2 separate regions of the Homo sapiens genome follow, and region 2 is linked to region 1. Evidence: fine-mapped expression QTL. A gene starts in region 1. The other region holds a variant in brackets. All regions are shown on one strand. Distances are from middle to middle.

Region 1 (5,372 bases):
CTGTGGAAATCATTTAGCCTCTCTGGAACCCCATTGTCTCTCTGTAAAAGGAAAAGGCTAGTACCTACTTCATAGATACCTATATATGTGTCTAATTTTTGTGTCTAATATATAGTAGTGTATTAGACTACACAGTGTCTAATGCACAGTAGTGTCCAATGCTAATTTTCTTTCTTCCTAGCTAGTCATTCCTAGCTGCTTCTCTCTTCTCTCACCTAAAACTATTAGATCCATTCAAAATGAGGAAAGCTCATTTAATTTGTTTCTCTAATTCCATCAGTTAAAATTTTTTTTGGTTTCTACCTGCTTATGATTTTGTTTTTCAGATACTAGGGAGTTCTAAGCATTGCTGGAAATCCCCTGATGAACAACAGCTTGGCTATGGTTACCAGTCTTCAGAGGGTCACCTAGGAATTTGCATGGCAACAGTCAACAATGGTGGGAGAGAAAGGCCCTCAGTGTAATGCACCTGTCCCGCCGGCAATCATTCCCAGTTTCTTCGCCACTCGGGGTTCTGGTGGAGATTTCTTGTTGGGCTGAATGTTAAAATGCCCTGAGAGGTCAGGTGAAGAGAGCAGTGGAAGAATAAAGTCAATACAGCGAACTTAGAAAACAAATGCAGAGTTGAAAATATGCCTGAGGCCAGTTGAGCAGCTGCTATGACATCTGATCCTGGAGCTTGGGTGGAAGCTTGAGTTGAGCCAGCCCTGACAATAATATAGTTGAGGGACAATGGGGCCAGGGCTATCTGTGAGTCAGTTCAGCGCCACACAATGTATCAGCTGCTTCTGGCAAAGTGTCACTCCCTGGTGAAGGAGACAGGCACAGAGCCAGGTGTGAATCTATTTTCCCAAGTGGCACACAGCAGCTCCAGGGACTTGCTAATGCACCCAGCTGTTCCCATGGGAAGGGCTGAAAGCTATCTCTGGCTCACTCCACAGCTCACCCAGGGGGGCAAATTTTTGAAGGTGGGGAAGAGGGGCACATGTTTGCTTTAGTAATCTCCACAGCTGCCATGGCTAGGGAATTCAAGTGGAGGAGGAACTGCTTCCTGTGGCAAATGGGGCTGAGAAACATGCCTTTCTATTGTATCAGCGCTATGTTTAGAAGGAAGGGCGGCCCTGGCCCTTACGTGCATACACATGTGTACACACAGCCATACTGTGCCAAGAGGACTATGGGAACTGATAAAGTGGGAGACAGGCTCAAGGAGAAGACAGGTCATTACCTTTTCCAGTGTAAGTGAGCAACCCGCTTGGCCCCCGAAACTCCACCACATCCCCAACCTTCAGGCTATCCAGGTACTGAGACATCTTCCCTCCCTCAGGAAATTTGGGGTGCACACCCTTCAGGTAGACCTTACAAGACAGAGAGAAAAATACCTTATTTGGAATGTCACTGGTTTCTGAGCCCCATGTTGACTAAACCTCCCTGAGGCTGGGGCAGGGATCAGATATGTGCTATCTTTTCCCCGTCTACATACTTTCTTTCTTTCTTTTTTTTTTTTGAGTCAGAGTTTTGCTCTTGCTGCCCAGGCTTGAGTGCAGTGGCGCAATCTTGGCTCACTGCAACCTCCGCCTCCTGGGTTCAAGTGAGTCTCCTGCCTCAGTCTCCTGAGTAGCTCATACTTTCTTCACATCCACAGAGTACATACCATTTCCTGCTGTCAGGCAAATCTTAGAAATTTCTACAAATCCCAGAAAGAATGGGTAAGCAGCCCCTGGGTCCCTTCCTAGCCCCTTACCTTGATGACAAGATCCACATAGCCTTGATCCTCATCACTGGTGACAGGAGTGTATGGCCTGATGACCAGGCTGCCATCAATTCGGGTGGAGAGGTAGATATGTTTGCCTGGGGACCGTGCAGAGAGCTACATAAGGGTTGTCTGTGATGTGCTGCATCCCTCAAAATACTCAAAGAGATTTGAGAGAACAAGATGTCTTGCTTCCTGCTGTGGTCCCAAGGAGCTACAAGGCAGGGAAGATTTGCCCCATTGAGCCCTCAGTTGGATCTCTTATAAGCGCCCAGTTGAGGAAACACTTATTTCCAGCGTTTCCTGCCAGTTACTGCCAGGACCTTGACAGATGAGCCAAAAGGGTCTGGGCAATGGGAAAAAGTTAGTAGTGCTTGCTCAGAGGGAGTAATTAGCAAATCCTGCAGGGAAGAGGCAAGACTGTTGAGTGTTAAAGCTGGATGGGGGTCATGGAAGCCACACTCTAGAGGGGCCCAGTGGCACCTCACAGCTTGGAGGATGCAGAGCCAAGTGGGGGAAGGGGAATGGTGTGTGGAGCAAACCGGTTGAAGCAGCGTGTTTCATGAGATCCCAGGAGGGGAGTCACCTTCTGAGGATACCAGGGAAAGGAGCCCATTCCACACTTTCCTTACCCACAGGCAGCCCCAGAGTGTGGTGGGCGGTGGGCAGGGCAAAGCGGAACCTCTTGGTGTTGTGGCTCACAGTCTGGAGGGTGGAGGACACAAGTGTTTCACCAAGCGCGCCTGGCGCTGCCACGTCCCTTGGACATCCCAACCACCGTGGGTGCTGTACCCTCCATGCCAGGAGCACTCTGGTCCCCTCCTTCACCCTGGCCCTTTCTTCCCCAACTTACCGTCTTGTCTAGCAGTCGTAGCAGGTACTTTTCATTGGGGTCCAGGAGAGTGACCTGAGGCCGGCGGGACCTCCGAACCAAGTAGGAGCCCACAGCCAGGCCGAGCAGAGTGACCAGCCCCACCCCCAGGGAGGCCAGCAGGACGGGGCTCTGTGGGTAGAGGAGGCAGCGTGACCGCCAGGCTGGGTAAGAGCCCGGGGCTTGGGTGGTGACCGTCCCAGGGGTGGCGATCCCGAGCTCCAGCGCGGAGGCATGCCAAGGGCAGAGGGGTAACCTGGCGGAGTCCCGAGCCCGGATGTGCGGGATCGGGACCCCAGCATCCACGGTGGGCCCAGAGCCCTGCGGGGCGGGGTCGGCAGCGACAGCCCCTGGTCCGGAGCTGAGTGGCCAGAACCAGATGGGGAGGGGTCCCCCAGTGGAGGATACTGAATGAGGGTCTTACCGTCTGGATCCCCATGACGGAGCGCCTTTTCCTCCACCACCTGACAAGCCGACAGATCCCACAATGCGCCGCGGGGCGGGTCGGAGGGCGGGGCAGGCCGGGGGCGGGGCCGGGCAGGAGGCAGGACCTCGCGGCTGGGGGGGCAGGAGGCGGGGCCTGGCGGGGGGGGGGGGGGGTGTCTGTCGGGGGCGGGGCCTAGCAGGAGGTGGCGGCGGCGGGGCCTTTTGGGGGCGGGGTCCGGCAGAGGCGGGGCTGGGCCCCTCTGCGCGCCACCCTTTCCCTCCGCTACTCGGTGGCTCAGGGTCTCCGGTGCTTATTCAATACTTTTTTTTTTTTTTTTGAGTCGGAGCCTCGCTCTGTCGCCCAGGCTGGAGTGCAGTGGCGCGATCTCGGTTACTGCAACCTCCGCCTCCCAGTTTCAAGTGGTTCTCCTGGCTCCGCCTCCCGAGTATCTGGGACTACTGGCGTGCGCCACCACGCCCGGCTAATTTTTTTTTTGTATTTTTAGTACAGACTGGGTTTCACCGTGTTGGTCAGGGTGGTCTCGAGCTCCAGGGCTCAAATAATCTACCCGCTTCGGCCTCCCAACGTGTTGGGATTACAGGCGTGAGCCATCGCGCCCGGCCCCAAGATCTTTTAAGACCGCAGCTCCAGCCTCTCCTCCCAGCGAGGTGGTCCCTGCCACTTCGACCCGCTTATATCCGAACTGGATGGGAGTTCTGCCTAAGGTAGAACCACGCTAAATTGGGGGATTGGAAATCTCTTGAGTCTGCGGGTGCTGAGCGGAGAGTGTAACGATGAACCAGAGACAGGCTCAAAGTAGAGCAGAAGGGCCTGAAGTTAATCATTGTGCAGTCACCTTAGTTTTTCAACCGGCTGAATTGCAGCAAGAGAATGGAACAGCCCAGAGGAGTCTCTTACAGGAGTGAACAGTGGCATGGCAACTTCATTTCCTTTTGACAAAAGACTGATTTTGTTTACAGCGCCAAGCCGTCAGCCTATCAGGATGATTCAGGAGCTTCCTTTGGTTTCAAAGACCAAGCTTCACATCCTGATTTGGGTTCTTGTGCCCTTAGGGTCAAAGAAGTGGGCTTTGGAGGCAGAGTGTACAGAATAAGAATCTTGCCTCTAGCACTTATTGGCTCTGTGACCTTAGATAGCTTACTCAACCTGAGTTTCTTCATCTACAGATGGATATAAGATGGATATCTACAGATGGATATATATTATTATCTACAGATAGATTGTATCTAGTTCATAGCTTTGGTGTGAGGCTTCAGTGAGATATGTTAACGTGCTTAGTGTAGTGCCTGTCATAAAGCAAAATATTCAACAGTTGGCAGCTACTATTATAACTTAAAAGACAGCACAGAGGGTCAGCTATGGTTTTAGGAATGAGCTCTGCCTGGGGCACAAGCATGGGACAGGAGGAGGCAGGAAAAAACATCAGGAGCCGCTGGAGCTACAGATTTCCCAAGATGACCATTCTTTCTCATACATGAGTTTCTCAACTAGAATGACATTTGCTCTTTGATATACCGTGATGGATGAGATCTCTGCAGATGTCAGTGTCAACATCTTAAACTAATACCATCAGGGCAGCAGGGACATTAGAGCCCCCAGTTTTCAGTTGTATTTGGTGAACTCTGTGAATGATCCAAGAGATACTTAGTTTTCCTTTTCCTCTCCACTGGCTGAAAATGTTCCTAAGACCCCAGTACATGTTCCTCTGAATTTTTTAAGCAGCCTGCACACTGACTTGAGGGAAGTGAGTGCACCAGATCATGGTGACATGCCAATCCATGCAGAGAGGGTTGAAAAGGGGAAGGAAGGGACCCTTCCTCTTTTCTGTTCCGAGAGAATGAGGCGATTATGTTCCGGTGCTTCTGACATCCCCACTGCTGGCTTGGTTAAGAAGCCACACTACTGATCCTTGCCACTGCTCCACTCTGGCTAAAGAGGTTCTAGGCCTTCCTCCCTCTAGTGGATAGATGTGGCAAGAGAGGGGGAAGTATGGAACGAAAGGAGAGCATAACTACAACTCGGGCTTCTCTCAGTGATTGCATTTTCTGAACCCCAAAGTGGCACATTCTAACAAGTGTGAGTGTATCACTGGGAACCACAGGACAGAATGGTTGGGTGTGGGCTTATCCTGGAAACTAAGTGTTGGACTCAGTAATTGTGGGAAGGCTCTTTTGCTCCTGAAAATGAATGCTGCAGGAGTGGTGGGAAGGGGCTGATGGCCTGGCAGGTCTTCCTGTCTCAGATTCTGTGGTGAATTGAACTCCACTCCACCACGACTCATGGTAATCTTACATTACTCC
Region 2 (5,372 bases), 140 kb before region 1:
GAAGGCGAGAGGGAGTAGGAGTCCGAGCCTAAGCGTCAGTGGAACCAACAGGAGGGAAGGAGAGAATGTAGGAGATACATAAGGAAGTAGGGGACACGGTGCGGGTGGGGAGGTGAGTGCTCAGTATCTAAAAAGATACTGATGCTGGTCTTTAGGGTGAATGCGAAGTCATAGCTCCCAATGATGAAGCACAAACAGGTCACATGTAAGTCCTGCATGTGCATTCCTCTGACAATGGGGAGTAGGTGGCTAGGACACAACAGTAACATCACAGAGGGAGCTTAGCTCAAGGATAGAAAACTGGGGAGACCTTTGTTTGCTGTGCCTGGCCTCACCCTCTGTTCATTACTCCTAGAGTGACTGGTCCTTATCACCCCAGCTCCTTTTTGTTTTTCTGTCTCCTGCCTTTTCCAGAAGTCTGTTGAACTCAAAGGGCTGAATGACAGCAGTCTTCCCTCCGTGACTGGGAAACTACACGGGAGGTACCAAAGGGGAACAGAGCTATGCCTGTGGTGGTGAAACCCTTTAACTGCAATTAGAGCCTTATTCCCTGCCTAAAGCCTTTTTTTTTTTTTGAGAGAGAGAGACAGAGAGGGTCTCACTCTCCCCTAGGTTGGATGGAGTGCAGTGGCACAATCTCAGCTCACTGCAGCCTCGACCTACTAGGCTAAGGCGATCCTCCCACCTCAGCCTCCCGAGTAGCTGGGACTTCAGGCATGTGCCACTACACCTGGCTAATTTTACTTTTTGTAGAGACGGGGTCTCACTATGTTGCCCAGGCTGGTCTCCAACTCCTGGCCTCAAGTGATCCTCCTGCTTTGGCCTCCTGAAATGCTGGGATTGAAGGCCTGAGTGCCCACACACTTTCACTGGGTGATCTTTATCCAAGTCCCACCTCGCCTGGCCCAAAAGCCCCCACCCCTTTTTTTTTTCCCCTGAGGTGGAGTCTTGCTCTGTTGCCCAGGCTGGAGTACAGTAACACAATCTCGGCTCACTGCAACCTCCGCCTCCCAGGTTCAAGTGATTCTCCTGCCTCAGCCTCCTGAATAGCTGGGATTACAGGCACATGCCACCATGCCTGGCTAATTCTTGTATTTTTAGTAGAGAAGGGGTTTCGTGATGTTGGCCAGGCTGGTCTCGAACTCCTGACCTCAGGTGATCCACCTGCCTCGCCTTCCCAAAGTGCTGGGATTACAGGCGTAAGCTACCATGCCCAGCGGTGTATACACACACACACACACACACACACACACACACACGCACACATTTATGGTCTAGAGAAGAGAGGCCTATTTCTTTTACATGAAGAGGTTTGTATGTGAATCACCTATGGGACTAAAAGTCTTTCCTAAAGGAAGCCAAGTAAGAAAAGTTTAATCTGTAAAGCCTTACTACTATAAGATTTTTTTTTCCTCATCACTGTGATTACCTGGAGATATAAGTATTATTGTTATTATTTGTTTTTCTTAAACAGAGGTGGAGCTCTCCCTGTGTTGCCCAGGCTGGTCTCAGTACTACTGGGCTCAAGCAATCCTCCTGCCTCAGCCTCCCAAAGAGCTGGGATTCCAGACGTGAGCCACTGTGCCCAGCCTACTTTTATAACTCATCAAAAAGCGAAGTGGCTAAGGGAGAAAAGCATGTTAACCTCTACCAAAATACTAAACTGGAAGGCATCCCTGGAATGGGGAAGATTAGAGAACAGTATGGCCTCAGGAGCACAGAAATCACTGACTACAGCTTTTCTTTTGTGTACTGATCACACAGGGAAAGAATCAAGAAGGGGTGAGAAGGCATGTTAAAGCCTTTCCTCTGATAATCTTGAAGCAATCAGAGAAACACATCTCACTAGAGAAAAAACACTCACAGAGGAAGAGAGCAGCATACAAGCACTTCTGAGGCTGAGCCAGCCTGAATTCCAATAACCCAACATGCAGGAAAGGATTTTTTTTTTTTTACTCTAAGTTAACAGAATCATGTTCTAATCAAGGTCTGTGAATAAATTAAGGATACTCTTTATGAAAAAAAGTGAAAGACACCAATTTGGCATGGCATTTGGCAACACTTCAGGTTTAGTTGTTTTAATAGTTTGATTTGGTTTTTAAAAATGTGGGAGGCAGGGTGTGGTGGCTCACGCC[G/A]GTAATCCCAGCACTTTCAGAGGCTGATACAGGAAGATCACGTGACCCCAGGCATTCAAGATGACCCTGGGCAACACAGGGAGAGCCTATCTCTACAAAAAAAAATTTTTTTTTTTAATTAGCTGGGTGTGGTGGTGTGCGTCTGTCATCCCCGCTACTTGGGAGGCTGAGGTGGGAGGATCGTTTGAGCCCGAAAGGTCAAGGCTGCTGTGAGCCATGATCACGCCACTGCACTCCAGTCTCAGCAACAGAGCGAGGCCTTGTCTCAAAAAATAAAGTAAAAAAGCAGGGGTAAGGAAAGTACAATGGCCATCTGTTTACTCAGATAAATTGACTGTATCAGCCAGGCACGGTGGCTCACGTCTGTAAACCCAGCACTTTGGGAGGCCGAGGCGGGCGGATCATGAGGTCAGGAGATCGAGACCATCCTGGCTAACAAGGTGAAACTCCGTCTCTACTGAAAATACAAAAATTAGCCAGGCATGGTGGTGGGCACCTGTAGTCCCAGCTACTCGGGAGGCTGAGGCAGGAGAATGGCGTGAACCCGGGAGGTGGAGCTTGCAGTGAGCTGATGCTGTGCCACAGCACTCCAGCCTGGGCAACAGAGTGAGATTCCGTCTCAAAAAAAAAAAATTGACTGTATCACTAAAGCTTCAGCCAACCTTCATCATTTTGAGTAGGGGAGACTTTGGGGAAGTTGAATCTCCAAGCATATGAAGTGAATGCAACAAATATCATCACGGGACATGTGATCTTCCTTCTTTAGCAGGGAATAAGGCTCTATTGTATCAGGTTCCTAGATTAGATAAAAGGGTGTGCTTGGATGGCAGGCACAGTGGTTCATGCCTGTAATCCCAGCACTTTGGGAGGCTGAGGCGGGCAGATCACTTGAGGTCAGGAGTTCGAGACCAGCCTGGCCAACATGGTAAAACCCCGTCTCTACTAAAAATACAAAAATTAGCCAGGCGCAGTGGTGCGTGCCTGTAATCCCAGCTACTCGGGAGGCTGAGGCGGGAGAATCGCTTGAACCCAGGAGGCGGAGGTCATAGGGAACTGAGATCTTGGAAATAAGTTAACAATGAGGAAAGATAGAATATGGGGGCAGACATGGGGTGGTTAATACAAGTGGAGAAGCCTTCCAGAGGGCAGAAGGGAAGTTCTAGGCATGGACTGGAGGGAGAGAGTCCTCCAGCTGTACACGTTGACTTCTTGCTATAGGAACCGTATCCTGACGCAGACGCGATGCGGTGTTCCATCAGGAAATGCTTCATACTCTCAGTGGGCATCGTATTCCTGTGGCCCTTCATCACTTTGAAAATCCCCAAGGAAACTGAAGATGATCAAAATGTGATGACTGTCAAAGGCCAAGTAGCAAGCCTTGAGCCTTGCTCAGTTTGGGAACTGGGAATATAGGGTGGAAATGGTGTGGACAGGCAGATTCTGGAAAGCCCCTGGGCTTTCTTCCTTCCTGACCTTTTCACCTGAGAGCAGGAAGCTCCAAAGGGAATGGGGGTATGGACCTGGGCCTATTAGTCCATGAAGAAGCTGTATTTATTTTCCTTATTCGTTAAGGTAAAGAAGACAGCAAATACTGCTTGAGCCCTGGATATTTTAGCCAATGGCCAGGCATCCTGAGAATGTGCCAGGCTCACTCTAGGGAGAATGGTTCACTCCACCTCTTTCCCTAGAAAAGCTTATGGGAAGCCACTGGGGTGTAAAATTTGTTCTTTTTATGAAAGGATATATATGTTTGCCCTTGTCAATGCCCCCGGAGGCCAGTTATAACAGCCGGAAGGACCCAAGATCACTAGAAGACTGGCAGAACCTCACCTTCAAATATATGGAAAAAATCCAGAAGAGAAGAAAGAGTGAGTACCAACAAGAAGGAGGAATTCAGCATCCCAGGGGAAGTAGGGACAGCCAGAGAGATCAGGCAGATAGGAAGGAAAGCAGAAGAGGGAAGGAGAAAAACAGACTGTGCCCAGGAATATTAGAATCCGGCAGACAATGGCCAAGTGTGGTGGCTCATGCCTGTAATCCCAGCACTTTGGGAGGCCTAGGTGGGTGGATCACGAAGTCAGGAGTTCGAGACCAGCCTGGCCAAGATGGTGAAATCCCATCTCTACTAAAAATACAAAAATTAGCTGGGCACAGTGGGGGACATCTGTAATCCCAGCTACTCAGGAAGCTGAGGCAGGAGAATCGCTTGAACCTGGGAGGCGGTGGTAGCAGTAAGCCAAGATCGCACCATTGCACTCCAGCCTGGGCAACAGAGTGAGACTCCTTCTCAAAAAAAAAAAAAAAAAAGAATCTGGCAGTTAATTCTCTCCTCCTTCCCCAAGGCAAATATTTATATATCAGCAGTATGAGGAGGAAGGAGGAAAAAGATAAAGTTGGCTACTACTTTTCTTTTTTTCCCTTCTTGGCCAGTTACTAAAGTTAATTGCTATAAGAAGGTGGAATCACTAGATTAGAGAACATTTGGATCAGAAGGGGTCTTAGAGTCGCATAGTCCAACTCCCCCAGTTTATGGATCAGGAACTAAACTCAGGGCTGAAGGGACTTGCTCAAGATCACACAATCAGTGGCAGAACTGGGACAAAAACTCCAGGCTCCTGACTTCCAGGGGAAGTCCTTTTCCTAATATACCTCCTTCAAAGGGCAGCTTTGGGAAGACGACAACAATTGACAACAATATAATAATATAATTGACAACAATTATAACTATTATAATAGCTAACATTTATTGAGCCCCTAAACCATACGCCACAAAGTTCTAGGCTCAAAGAAGACTGAGCAGAACCCACAGACACTCAGCATCACCTAGCTTAGTACTTCTCAAACTTTACTGTGCATACAAGTTACCTGGTGATACTGTGAAAATGCAGCTTCTGATTAAATCTGAGATAGGGATCGAGATCCTGTATTTGAAATGAGCTTACAGAGCAGCCTGATGTTGCTGGACTAAGGACCACACTTCGAGCAGCAAGGATGTAAACATCCCCTCCACCAAGGGAAAAACAGGTGGGAAATAAGAGGGAGGAAGGAAGAGTGAAGGTCCCACATAGGATCCCAACCCCTAACCCTTCTGACAACCGTCACTATTACTGTGCACTGACAGTTGTCCCTATTTTTACCTCTCCTCAGCATGGCTGACAGTGGGGAATCTCATCAGTGCAGCAAGGGGATGGAAGCAGCCTCTTGTACACATTGGTCTCCCTGTTCCGTGTTTCTTCT

The links. PIP is the estimated chance that this variant, and not a neighbour inherited with it, causes the effect. A credible set is the group of variants that fine-mapping cannot tell apart.
Region 2: its variant is the best candidate, but not a certain one, in a credible set for the expression of CYB5R1 in whole blood (TOPMed, PIP 0.75).

What each region holds. Positions count from the first base shown.
Region 1 is chr1:202,964,143-202,969,514 of GRCh38, forward strand. It overlaps CYB5R1 (cytochrome b5 reductase 1), which reads right to left and starts at 3,115. Exons shown (of 9, transcript NM_016243.3): 1 at 3,049-3,115; 2 at 2,607-2,756; 3 at 2,386-2,458; 4 at 1,745-1,851; 5 at 1,229-1,358; 6 at 470-553. The coding sequence starts at 3,063. RefSeq lists silencers at 3,023-3,072, 3,143-3,302, 3,919-4,213.
Region 2 is chr1:202,819,904-202,825,275 of GRCh38, forward strand. All of the region lies in intron 2 of LOC124904583, which reads right to left. It also overlaps the pseudogene MGAT4EP. Among named protein-coding and RNA genes, the nearest start is that of PCAT6, 12 kb to the left of the region's middle. The variant G/A (reference allele first, on the strand shown) is at 2,136.